3 linked regions of the Homo sapiens genome follow. The protein of the gene in region 1 purifies or fractionates together with the protein of each later gene. This does not show direct contact. Each region holds a gene or a part of one and is shown in the gene's direction. Other genes may lie near its edges. The genes, in order: PANK4, SAE1 and GMIP.

Region 1 (3,645 bases):
GCGCCTGGCAGGTGTCCAGGGTGGGCTGAGGCCACGTCTTCACTCAGGCCTGGCATCTGGCACTCTCCACAGGTGAAGCAGCGGGAGAATGGCGTGGCGCTGAGGTGCTTCCCCGGGGTCGTGCGCTCCCTGGACGCGCTGGGCTGGGAGGAACGGCAGCTGGCGCTGGTGAAAGGCCTCCTGGCGGGGAATGTCTTCGACTGGGGGGCCAAAGCCGTGTCTGCGTAGGTGTCTGCGGGCTCGGAGCAGGCTCTGCAGCCTGTGGGTGCCTGTCCTGCCCCAGGCTTGCGGGCAAGGAGGTGGAGCGGGTCCCTTGGGGGTCACGTGGCGCTTGGTGGCTTGGTGGCTCAGGGCTTTGGGGCCCAGGGAGTGCACATGGCAGCAGCGCCAGGGGCTGGGCAGGGCGCAGCGCCCTTGTCTGTCCCCTCAGGTTCTGAGGAGGCCCCTTCCTTAAGCATGGGTGCCGCAGAGGCCTAAGGGTGTGGATTTGAAAATCGGGGCTGGCATTTTCTATTGTCAGAATCCAAATTCATGTTTCCTATGTGTGGTAGGAATTAAACATTTCTGATGTGATGATCAAAGGGTGCTTTGCAAAGCAGTCCCCTAGACTGGCCTGTAGGACACGCAGGTGTCTAGCACCTGGCGCCGTCTCCTGGGGCTCTGAATCTTGAAAATGAACCCCCCCACCATCATTTACCTTCACTCCCAAAGAAGCTGCTTCCAGTCTCTGGGCCTCCCCAGGCGGCCGCACCACCTCTCGTGGTCCCTGCTTTTTTTCATGTGGGGCTGGAGGGAAATGCCTGGGTTCTCAGCCCTCCCTGGGTCCCACTCGTGTCTCGAGACATAGATGAGAACGCCGCCTCCAACCATGGCTGCCCCTCTGGGACACAGGCCCCTCCCGCAGCCTGTCAGGAGCATTGGAGGAGGGTCCTGACCCATGGGATTGGCCTTGTGGCTGGGGGCTCCCCACACCGCCTGCATGGGTGCCAAGCACAGGGACCATACTGCGGCTGCCAGTCACCGAGAGGCTTCCCTGGCCCCGTGGCTCCGAGTCCACCTTGAGAAACAGCCTGTGCTCTCTCAGACCTTTGCTTGGTGGCCCCCTGAGCCTTCTGCGGATCGCAGCATGTTAAGAACGCTGTATCTGTTCTGCCTGGGAGTGATTTGGGGTCTTCACGTTGAGCAGCTGCCTCTGTCCCACCTGGGAGGGATTTGGGGTCTTAGCAGCTGCCTCTGTCCTGCCTGGGAGTGATTTGGGGTCTTCACGTTGAGCAGCTGCCCCTGTCCCACCTGGGAGGGATTTGGGATCTTTACATTGAGCAGCTGCCTCTGTCCCGCCTGGGAGGGATTTGGGGTCTTCACATTGAGCACTGTGGCTGAAGGTTTTTGTTCTGTTGTCTTAATTTTCTTTTCTCCTCCTCCATGCAGTGTCCTTGAATCCGACCCCTACTTTGGGTTTGAAGAAGCAAAGAGGAAGTTACAAGGTACGGATGGCCAAGTAACTTGGGGCCTTGCCTTGTGCTGGGGCCATGCCTGGACGTTCTCTGCAACAGCGAATGCAGTTGCGGTCGGGGTCCAGGCACCTCCCCTGCTCAAGGCTCTGTCAGCTGGGCTTCGGGGGCGGGGAGAACTTGCTTCCTGGAGAGACGAACACCTGAAGACGCGTCTCCCTGACCCCTGACCTGGAGCACCGGGCTAATCATGTGTCCCTCTCTCTGTCTCAGAAAGACCCTGGCTCGTGGATTCCTACAGCGAGTGGCTTCAGAGATTAAAGGTATGTGGAGGGGCCTCCCACCTCTGCTGCTGGGGACACAGCGGGGCCCGGGGGGGTGGTCACTGGAGGGAGGTGGGCATGGGCTGCCTCGGGTGGCCCTCCCCTCCTGTTAGAGTCTCACCATCCTGCGAGCCAAGGGTCTCAGCATCCCCTGCCCCACACTTGCCCTCCTGTCGTGACTGCTTCTTAGGTCACCTGCTCTAGGCACAAAGCCTTGCCAGAAGAGACAGGCACTGGCCCCTGCAGGCCAATCCGTCCCTGGCGCCTCTGGGGTCCTGAAGCCCCAGTCTCAGCCCCTGCAGGCTGGCCCGTCCCGGTGCCTCTGGGGTCCTGAAGTCCCGGTCTCAGCCCCTGCAGCCCAGCCCAGTCCCGGCACCTCTGGGGCCCTGAAGCCCCTGGTCTCGGCCCCTGCAGGACAGCCCATCCCTGGCATCTCTGGGGCCCTGAAGCCCCCAGTCTCGGCCCCTGCAGGGCAGCGTGACGGGCAGCAGGGGTGCGGACTGACTCGCTTGGATGCGCCTGTTCCCAACTGAACGTCCTGGTTTTGTCTTACAGGGGCCCCCTCATAAATGTGCCTTAATTTTCGCAGATAACAGTGGAATAGACATCATTTTGGGAGTCTTCCCCTTTGTCAGGGAGCTACTCCTTAGAGGGACAGAGGTGAGTGTTGAGGTGGTGGGTGGGGCCCTTCCCCTGGGCTTCTCTGCTCTCGGTGGGGTTGGCGCCGCTGTGGGCCTCTGGCGGTGGTCGGGGCTCCTCCGGACGCAGCAGGTAGGTGCAGGCAGCAGCACGGGGGAGGCGGCCCAGAGCCGTCATCTGCTGGGGTGGAGGCTCCGAGCCCCCTGGGCTCAGGCTGAGGGTCCATGTGCTGAAGCCCAGGGTTGACGCCAGGCTCCTGGAAGGGTGCTCACAGCAAGGAGGCTTTGGGGCTGTGACTTCACAGACAGGCAGGTCCCAGGGGCAGGCTCTAAACTCAGCTCTGCCCCTCGGCTCAGCTCCCTCCCAGGGGCCACAGAGTGGCAAGGTCAGGCGAGGTCCCTGCTCCTCAGCAGCAGGTGGCTGGCCAGGCCCGCTGGGCACAGCACCCTCACCCAGCCCAGCCACTCGAAGGCCGGGGTGCACGCAGGCTCCATGCTGGGCCAGCACAGGTTCCTAAAGAGCCTGGGCCCTCCTCCTGCAGGTCATCCTGGCGTGCAACTCAGGCCCCGCCCTGAACGACGTGACCCACAGCGAGTCCCTCATCGTGGCAGAGCGTATTGCGGGCATGGACCCTGTCGTGCAGTGAGTGTTGGCGGGCAGTGCTGGGGGGGCCTTGATGGGGAGGGGCACCAGCTGGGCAGAGTGGGCCATGGGGATTGTCACTGAACTGGGAGCTCCTGGGGGCACTGACCACCTTGTATCTGGCAGCTCTGCGCTCCAGGAAGAGAGGCTGCTGCTGGTGCAGACGGGCTCCAGCTCCCCGTGCCTCGACCTCAGGTAACCCCGCACCCTGCACCTGTTCTCTCCCTCCTGGGCTCTGTGCCCTCTGTGCCGTGCACCTGCACCCAGGTGCATGCGGGACACCGACCTCAGGACTGCCCCTGCGGCCTCTCCTGACCCCAGGCCCGGATTGATCTCAGGAGGGGACAGATATGCCATCCCCGAAGGTGGCCTGGGGAGGGTGAATGGATTCAGGGTCTGAGGTGGTTACACATGGGCTGGGTTTGGGGACTTGGGGCAAGAGGGGCCAATGTCCCTGTGGCCACTCAGCTGAGACCGAGGGCGACCTGGGCAGCTGCCCGGTGTCTGTCACCTCCGTGTCCCACATAGATGCCAGGCTCTGCTTCTGTGGTTCTGGAGGTCATTAGTCAATTGTATGTGGTGCTGTCTGT
Region 2 (3,645 bases), on another chromosome or scaffold:
ACTGTTTTTGGCTTGAGCACCTACCTGGAACGATGGAATTGCCATTTTGAAAGATATGGAGAGCTGTAGGTTTGGTGGGGTCGGGGAAGAGTCAGTTCTCTTTTAGGTTTCAGATTTGTTTTTTTTGTTTGTTTTTTTTTTTTTTGAGACGGAGTCTCACTCTGTCGCCCAGGCTGGAGTGCAGTGGCATGGTCTCGGCTCACTGCAACCTCTGCCTCCCAGGTTCAAGCAATTCTCCTGCCTCAGCCTCCCGAGTAGCTGGGATTACAGGCGCCCGCCACCATGCCCAGCTAATTTTTGTATTTTTAGTAGAGACGGAGTTTCACCGTGTTGGTCAGGCTGGTGTTGAACCCCTGACCTCGTGATCCACCTGCCTCGGCCTCCCAAAGTGCTGGGATTACAGGTGTGAGCCACCATGCCCGGCCTCAGATTTGTTTTTTTATACAACTAAGTAGAAATATGTGAGGGGTTGAGTTCAGAGGTAAAATTTGGGTGATGGTGGGTATTGTGTGAGTACAGAGTATAGAATTAATGGAGGGGTTGGGGAGGCAGACACGTCAGGAGAATTTAGTTTGAGGGGGTGGGAGCTTTCAGAAGGTTTTAGAGGGTGCAGTGGTGGGATGGGAATTACCTCAGGCTCATTTCAGATCTGTGGGGTCTTCTTTGATGGGGTGGGGGGATGTCATCATGAGGCATTAACATTGGTGGGAGGGTTGAAGGCACCTGGAATAGATTGGGAATTAAGTGATGAGAATGTGCCTCTGGACATAGGTGGACTGCATTGATTTTAGGGACTGCTATTTTCTGGATGGAGTGGAAAGAGGATTTATGTGAGTTGGAGGAAACTTTGAGGAAGCTTGGTGTGTTCTGAGATCCTAAAGGGTTGGGGAGGGGATTCTAAGGTACTGGAAGGGTTAATCGAAGGGGTTTGCGGCAGCAGATAGCTTTGTTTGAAGTGGGGCAAAGTTGGTGAGGTTTAAACTGGAATGTAGTTAGGGAACTTTCAGAGGGATGGGGATGATTTTTCTGAGAAGCAGTGAAGAATGGATGGGGGCCTCTGAGTGGGAGATGACCTAAGGGACAAGTCAGGGTCAGGGCATGGAATTTGTGGGAGGTAGGAATTATTCTGAGGGAGTGGAGCTGTACCAAATTTGGTGGAGAACATGAAAAGGATTGGCTGGGGGTTGCAGGAGGGAGGGAAGAGGTTGTTTGTAATTTGTACTCTATTTTTAGACAGTCTTAGAGAGTTTATTAAAGTGTTTTTTGTCCATTTTCAGCCGAGGTTTTTAGAAATTAAAAATTTTTTTGTGTGAGTACATAGTAGGTGTATACATTTTGGGGGTATGTGAGATACTTTGATACAGGCATACAATGGGTAATAATCACATCAGGGTAAATGGGGTATCCACCACCTTAAGCACTTATCCTTTGTGTTACAAACAATCCAATTATATTCTTTTAGTTGCTTTGAAATGTACAACAAATTATTGTTGACTGTAGTCACCCTGTTATGCTATCAAATACTGTATCTTATTCATTGTATTTAATTATATTTTTGTATCCATTAGTCATCCCTCCTTCCCCTCCACCCCCCACTACCCTTCCTAGCCTCTGGTAACCCTCAGTCTACTATCTGCATGAGTTCAATTGTTTTAATTTTTTTAGTTCCCACAAATAAGTGACAGCGTGCAAAGTTTTCTTTCTGTGCCTGATTTATTTCACTTAACATAATAACATCCAGTGCCCTCCCTGTTGTTGTAAATGACAGGATCTCATTCCCTTTTTTTTGTAGACAGGGTCTCTCTGTCGCGCAGACTAGAGTGCAGTGGTGTGATCACAACTCACTTCAGCCTTGACTTCTTGGGCTCAGGTGATCCTCCCACCTCAGCCTCCCGGTAGTTGTGACTATAGCACGTGTCACAAGCCCAGCTAATATTTTAGTACAGGTGGGGTTTCACCAGGCTAGTCTCCAACTCCTGGGCTCAAATAATCCTCCTGCCTCCCTGCAAAGTGCTGGGATTAGAGGCGTGAACAGCAATGCCCAGCCTTTGTACCACAATTTCTATTTTTTTTTTTGAAACGGAGTCTCGCCGTGTCGCCTAGGCTGGAGTAGGCTGGAGTGCAGTGGCGCAGTCTTGGTTCACTGCAAGCTCCGCCTCCCAGGTTCACGCCATTCTCCTGCCTCAGCCTCCCTAGTAGCTGGGACTACAGGTGCCCGCCACCACGCCCGGCTAATTTCTGTATTTTTAGTAGAGACGGGGTTTCACCTTGTTGGCCAGGATGGTCTCAATCTCCTGACCTCGTGTACCACAATTTCTTTATCCATTTGTCTGTTGATAGACATATGGGTTGCTTTCAAATCTTGGCTATTGTGAAGAGTGCTGCAATAAACATGGGATTTATTGCAGTTTTTTTTCTTTTGAGACCGAGCCTCGCTCTGTTGCCCAGGCTAGAGGACAGTGGCACGATCTCAGCCCAGTACAATCTCCACCTCCCAGGTTCAAGCGATTCTCCTGCCTAAGCCTCCCAAGTAGCTGAGATTACAGGCACCTGCCACCACGCCCGGCTAATCTTTGTATTTTTTAGTAGAGATGGGGTTGCTGTGTTGGCCAGGCTGGTCTCAAACTCCTGGCTTCAGGTGATTGGCCCTCCTTGGCCCCCCAAAGTGTTGCAATTACAGGCGTGAGCCACCACACCCAGCCTGATTTATTTTCATTTGGGTATATACCTAGCAGTGGGATTGCATTTTTACCCGAGTCTTTTTTTTTTTTTTTTTTGAGACGGAGTTTCGCTCTTGTTACCCAGACTGGAGTATGGTGGCGTGATCTCAGCTCACCGCAACCCTTGCCTCCCAGGTTCAAGCAATTCTTCTGGTTCAGCCTCCCAAGTAGCTGGGATTACAGGCGTGTGCCACCATGCCCGGCTAATTTTGTATTTTAGTAGAGACGGGATTCCTCCATGTTGGTCAGGCTGTGAACTCCTGACCTCAGGTGATCCGCCCGCCTTGGCCTCCCAAAGTGCTGGGATTACAGGCATGAGCCACAGCCCCCGGCCTTCACCTGAGTCTTATAGCAGCTCTCTGGAGTCGGAAGGGCAGTGATTTCCTTCTCTGTTCAGATGAGGAAGGAGGCTCCACAGAGCAAATTGACTTGCCTCTAAGAGGGCTCTAGGTGGGATAGGAGGGTTCTAGGTGGGATAGGAGAACTCTGGAGACTGGAGTTCCTTTATGAAACAGAAGCCCTGGAAATGGGCAGGCTGATAAAATGTACAAATTGTGGGGCATTTTATAAGACAGTTATCCTACTTCTCTTCCAAAAGTCAGTTTCATGGGAAAAATAAGTGAAGGGACTGTTGTGGATTAAAAGAGAGTAAAGGCCGTCACAGTGACTCAGCCTGTAATCCCAGGACTTTGAGAGGCCGAGGTGGGTGGATCACCTGAGGTCAGGAGTTCGAGACTAGCCTGGCCAACATGGTGACCGTCTCTACTAAAAATACAAAAAAAATTAGCCAGGTGTGGTGGTGGGTGCTTGTAATCCCAACTACTTGGGAGGCTGAGGCAGGAGAATTGTTTGAATCCAGGAGGCAGAGGTTTTAGTGAGCCAAGGTCACACTATCGCACTCCAGCCTGGGTGACAAGAGCGAAAC
Region 3 (3,645 bases), on another chromosome or scaffold:
AATTTAGTACTCCAGGCTCTCGGGGGCCATAGGAGGGTGAATGGGTTGTCCCAGTCCTAGGGGCAGGGGCAGGAATGTGGGGCTACTGTATTTCAGGGGCCACAATGCCCTGGGTGTCAGGGTTTGCAGACCCAAGTGCTTGGAGTTGGTACCTAGACATGATGCCTGGGTGCCATCACCCCAGGCCAGTTTCCTGGGATTCAAACCTTCAAACTTCTGTCTTCTCAGCTCCCCTCTGGACATCAGAAAGAAGCTCTCTGGGCCTCTTCCTCCAAGGCTGGATGAGAATTCAGCTGAGCCAGGCCCTTGGGAGGATCCGGGCACAGGCTGGCGCTGGCAAGGTGAGTGCAATGAGGGCCAGGTGGGAGTGGTGCCAGGAGTTCGTTCCACCAACACATAGGTGGGCTGCAGGAGTGGGGTTTGTGAGCAGGGGACCATCCTTATTGACCTGTGCCACCTAGGGACTCCAGGCCCCACTCCGGGCAGCGATGTGGACAGCGTGGGTGGCGGCAGCGAGTCTCGGTCCCTGGACTCACCCACTTCCAGCCCAGGTAGGGATAGGACCTGGTCCTGACCCACACTCCACCTGTGACCATCCTCCAGCCCCTGGCCAAGCTCTGACCCTCAATCTTTAACTATCTTTGACCTCTGACCTACCCCACACCCCTGACCTATTTCCTCAACCTCTTTTTTTACCTTTTTAAAAATTATTTATTTATTTATTTGTTTGTTTATTTGAGACAGTCTCATTCTGTCGCCCAGCCTGGAGTGCAGTGGCGTGATCTCGGCTCACTGCAACCTCCACCTCCCAGATTCAAGCGATTCTCCTGTCTCAGCCTCTGGAGTAGCTGGGATTACAGGTGTGCACTACCACGCCGGCTGATTTTTGTATTTTTTAGTAGAGACGGGGTTTCACCATGTTGGCCAGGCTGATCTCGAACTCCTGACCTCAGGTGATCCACCTGCCTCGGTCTCCCAAAGTGCAGGGATTACAGGTGTGTGCCACCACGCCCGGCCTTTTCTTTTCTTTTCTTTCTTTCTTTTTTTTTTTTTTGAGACAGAGTCTTGCTCTGTTGCCCAGGCTGGAGCGCAGTGGTACGATCTTGGCTCACTGCAACCTCCGCCTCCCAGGTTCAAGCGATTCTCGTGCCTCAGCCTCCCGAGTAGCTGGGACTACAGGTGCCTGCCACCATGCCTGGTTAATGTTTGTATTTTTAGTAGAGACAAGGTTTTGCCATGTTGGCCAGGCTGGTGTCAAACTCCTTGCCTCATGTGATCCTCCTGCCTCAGCTTCCCAAAGTGCTGGGATTACAGGTGTGAGCCACTGCGCCCGGCCTATTTCCTCAACCTCTTGATCCAGCTTATGAACCACCCCCCTCAGGTTGCTGACCCAATTCTCCAACCCTTAACCACTGACCTGTCCAATCCCCCTCCTGACCTCTGACCCCTTGGGAATTAGTGGGTGGTTCTGGAAGCCCTAAAAACCAGGAGTGCCTCCCATAGCCCAGGAATCTCCCATGATTCCTCTGACCCCAGGCGCTGGCACGAGGCAGCTGGTGAAGGCTTCGTCCACAGGCACTGAGTCCTCAGATGACTTTGAGGAGCGAGACCCTGGTGAGGCTGAAGCAGGGTAGGTCAGGATGGGACAGGGCAGGGCACCAGGCACTCCTGACCCTGTCTCCCTGCAGACCTGGGAGACGGGCTGGAGAATGGGCTGGGCAGCCCCTTCGGGAAGTGGACACTGTCCAGCGCGGCTCAGACCCACCAGCTGCGGCGACTGCGGGGCCCAGCCAAGTGCCGCGAGTGCGAAGCCTTCATGGTCAGCGGGACGGAGTGTGAGGAGGTGTGGCCTGGGTTAATGACCAAATGACCTTTGCTGACCCTTGATCATCTCCCTGACCTGAGATTCCTACAGCCTTTCTGCCCCTGGGACCCACCCTAACCTGATGTCTCCCATGAGCCCCCATTCCTTGAGGATCCTTGTAACCTTCTCTTCCCCTACTGGTCCCTAATGACCTCCCTGTCCCTGTGACCTTCCCCACAGTGCTTTCTGACCTGCCACAAGCGCTGCCTGGAGACTCTCCTGATCCTCTGTGGACACAGGCGGCTCCCAGCCCGGACACCCCTTTTTGGGGTTGACTTCCTGCAGCTACCCAGGGACTTCCCGGAGGAGGTACCCTTTGTGGTCACGAAGTGCACGGCTGAGATAGAACACCGTGCCCTGGATGTGCAGGTGCTGCCCTGACCCTTCATCATCCCCAGAAGTGACCTGACCGAATCGATGGCCTATCACGAACCAGGTGTCTGTTTTTCACCCTCACCCTGCAGGGCATTTACCGGGTCAGCGGGTCCCGGGTCCGTGTGGAGCGGCTGTGCCAGGCTTTCGAGAATGGCCGAGCGTTGGTGGAGCTGTCGGGGAACTCGCCTCATGACGTCTCGAGTGTCCTCAAGCGATTTCTTCAGGAGGTTGGTGCTCAGGACACTGAGGGGGACGCGGGCAGGAGCCCTCCACAGCCCACCCACACTCGTGTTGCGCCCTCCGTTCCACCCCCAGCTCACCGAGCCCGTGATCCCCTTCCACCTCTACGACGCCTTCATCTCTCTGGCTAAGACCTTGCATGCAGACCCTGGGGACGACCCTGGGACCCCCAGCCCCAGCCCTGAGGTTATCCGCTCGCTGAAGACCCTCTTGGTACAGCTGCCTGACTCTAACTACAACACCCTGCGGCACCTGGTGGCCCATCTGTTCAGGTGTGCATGGGTCCCTGAGCCTTGAAACGCGACCCTTTTCCCTGGACATGCGACTACTAACTTCCCTGGCTGACCCCTGACACTGACCTCTGACCTTTGACCTGTGTTTTCTGAACTCTGAACCTTAATCCATGATTCATAACTTTGGGTACTGACCCCTGACCTCCAGTTCTGGATATGTGGCTGCTGGTCTCAGACGACTTACACCTGTGACATGGGCAAGTCACCTCTAGGCTGGCCTGCGTGTCCCACCCTTACCCTCAGACCAATGAGCTTGCATCCTGTACCCTGACCTTTCTCTTCACACCATCCCCAGGGTGGCTGCACGATTTATGGAAAACAAGATGTCTGCCAACAACCTGGGCATTGTGTTTGGGCCGACACTGCTGCGGCCGCCGGACGGCCCGCGGGCAGCCAGCGCCATCCCTGTCACCTGCCTGCTGGACTCTGGGCATCAGGCCCAGCTTGTGGAGTTCCTCATCGTGCACTACGAGCAGATCTTTGGGATGGATGAGCTCCCCCAGGCCACTGAGCCCCCGCCCCAAGACTCCAGCCCAGCCCCTGGGCCCCTCACAACCAGCTCCCAACCGCCACCCCCGCACCTTGACCCAGACTCCCAGCCCCCAGTCCTAGCCTCAGACCCCGGCCCAGACCCCCAGCACCACAGTACCCTGGAGCAGCATCCCACGGCCACACCTACCGAGGTAAGAACCCACTGGGCCCACAGCTATGGAGAGGGCCTTATCTCTGTTCAATTCTCTTACCTTCTCTTTCACCTTCCTTCCTTTTTAAAATTTCCTTCATTCTCTTCCTCCCTTCCTCATTTAACTTATGTTCATTCTGGAAGGAATAGTGAGGAATGAGCAGTGGGCAGTGATGATGTAACAAAAGGGG

What was found.
Region 2: the proteins of PANK4 (region 1) and SAE1 fractionate together in Homo sapiens (co-fractionation; one large-scale study listed by BioGRID). This does not show direct contact.
Region 3: the proteins of PANK4 (region 1) and GMIP fractionate together in Homo sapiens (co-fractionation; one large-scale study listed by BioGRID). This does not show direct contact.

The regions. Positions count from the first base shown.
Region 1 is NC_000001.11:2,509,467-2,513,111, reverse strand, and holds part of PANK4 (4'-phosphopantetheine phosphatase), read left to right. Parts: intron 1-72; coding exon 73-224; intron 225-1,428; coding exon 1,429-1,484; intron 1,485-1,724; coding exon 1,725-1,774; intron 1,775-2,329; coding exon 2,330-2,434; intron 2,435-2,954; coding exon 2,955-3,055; intron 3,056-3,181; coding exon 3,182-3,250; intron 3,251-3,645. UniProt on the Homo sapiens protein: Phosphatase which shows a preference for 4'-phosphopantetheine and its oxidatively damaged forms (sulfonate or S-sulfonate), providing strong indirect evidence that the phosphatase activity pre-empts damage in the coenzyme A (CoA) pathway.
Region 2 is NC_000019.10:47,133,736-47,137,380, forward strand, and holds part of SAE1 (SUMO-activating enzyme subunit 1), read left to right. Parts: intron 1-3,645. UniProt on the Homo sapiens protein: The heterodimer acts as an E1 ligase for SUMO1, SUMO2, SUMO3, and probably SUMO4. It mediates ATP-dependent activation of SUMO proteins followed by formation of a thioester bond between a SUMO protein and a conserved active site cysteine residue on UBA2/SAE2.
Region 3 is NC_000019.10:19,633,613-19,637,257, reverse strand, and holds part of GMIP (GEM-interacting protein), read left to right. Parts: intron 1-228; coding exon 229-341; intron 342-461; coding exon 462-551; intron 552-1,536; coding exon 1,537-1,614; intron 1,615-1,688; coding exon 1,689-1,843; intron 1,844-2,044; coding exon 2,045-2,233; intron 2,234-2,328; coding exon 2,329-2,466; intron 2,467-2,554; coding exon 2,555-2,751; intron 2,752-3,067; coding exon 3,068-3,455; intron 3,456-3,645. UniProt on the Homo sapiens protein: Stimulates, in vitro and in vivo, the GTPase activity of RhoA.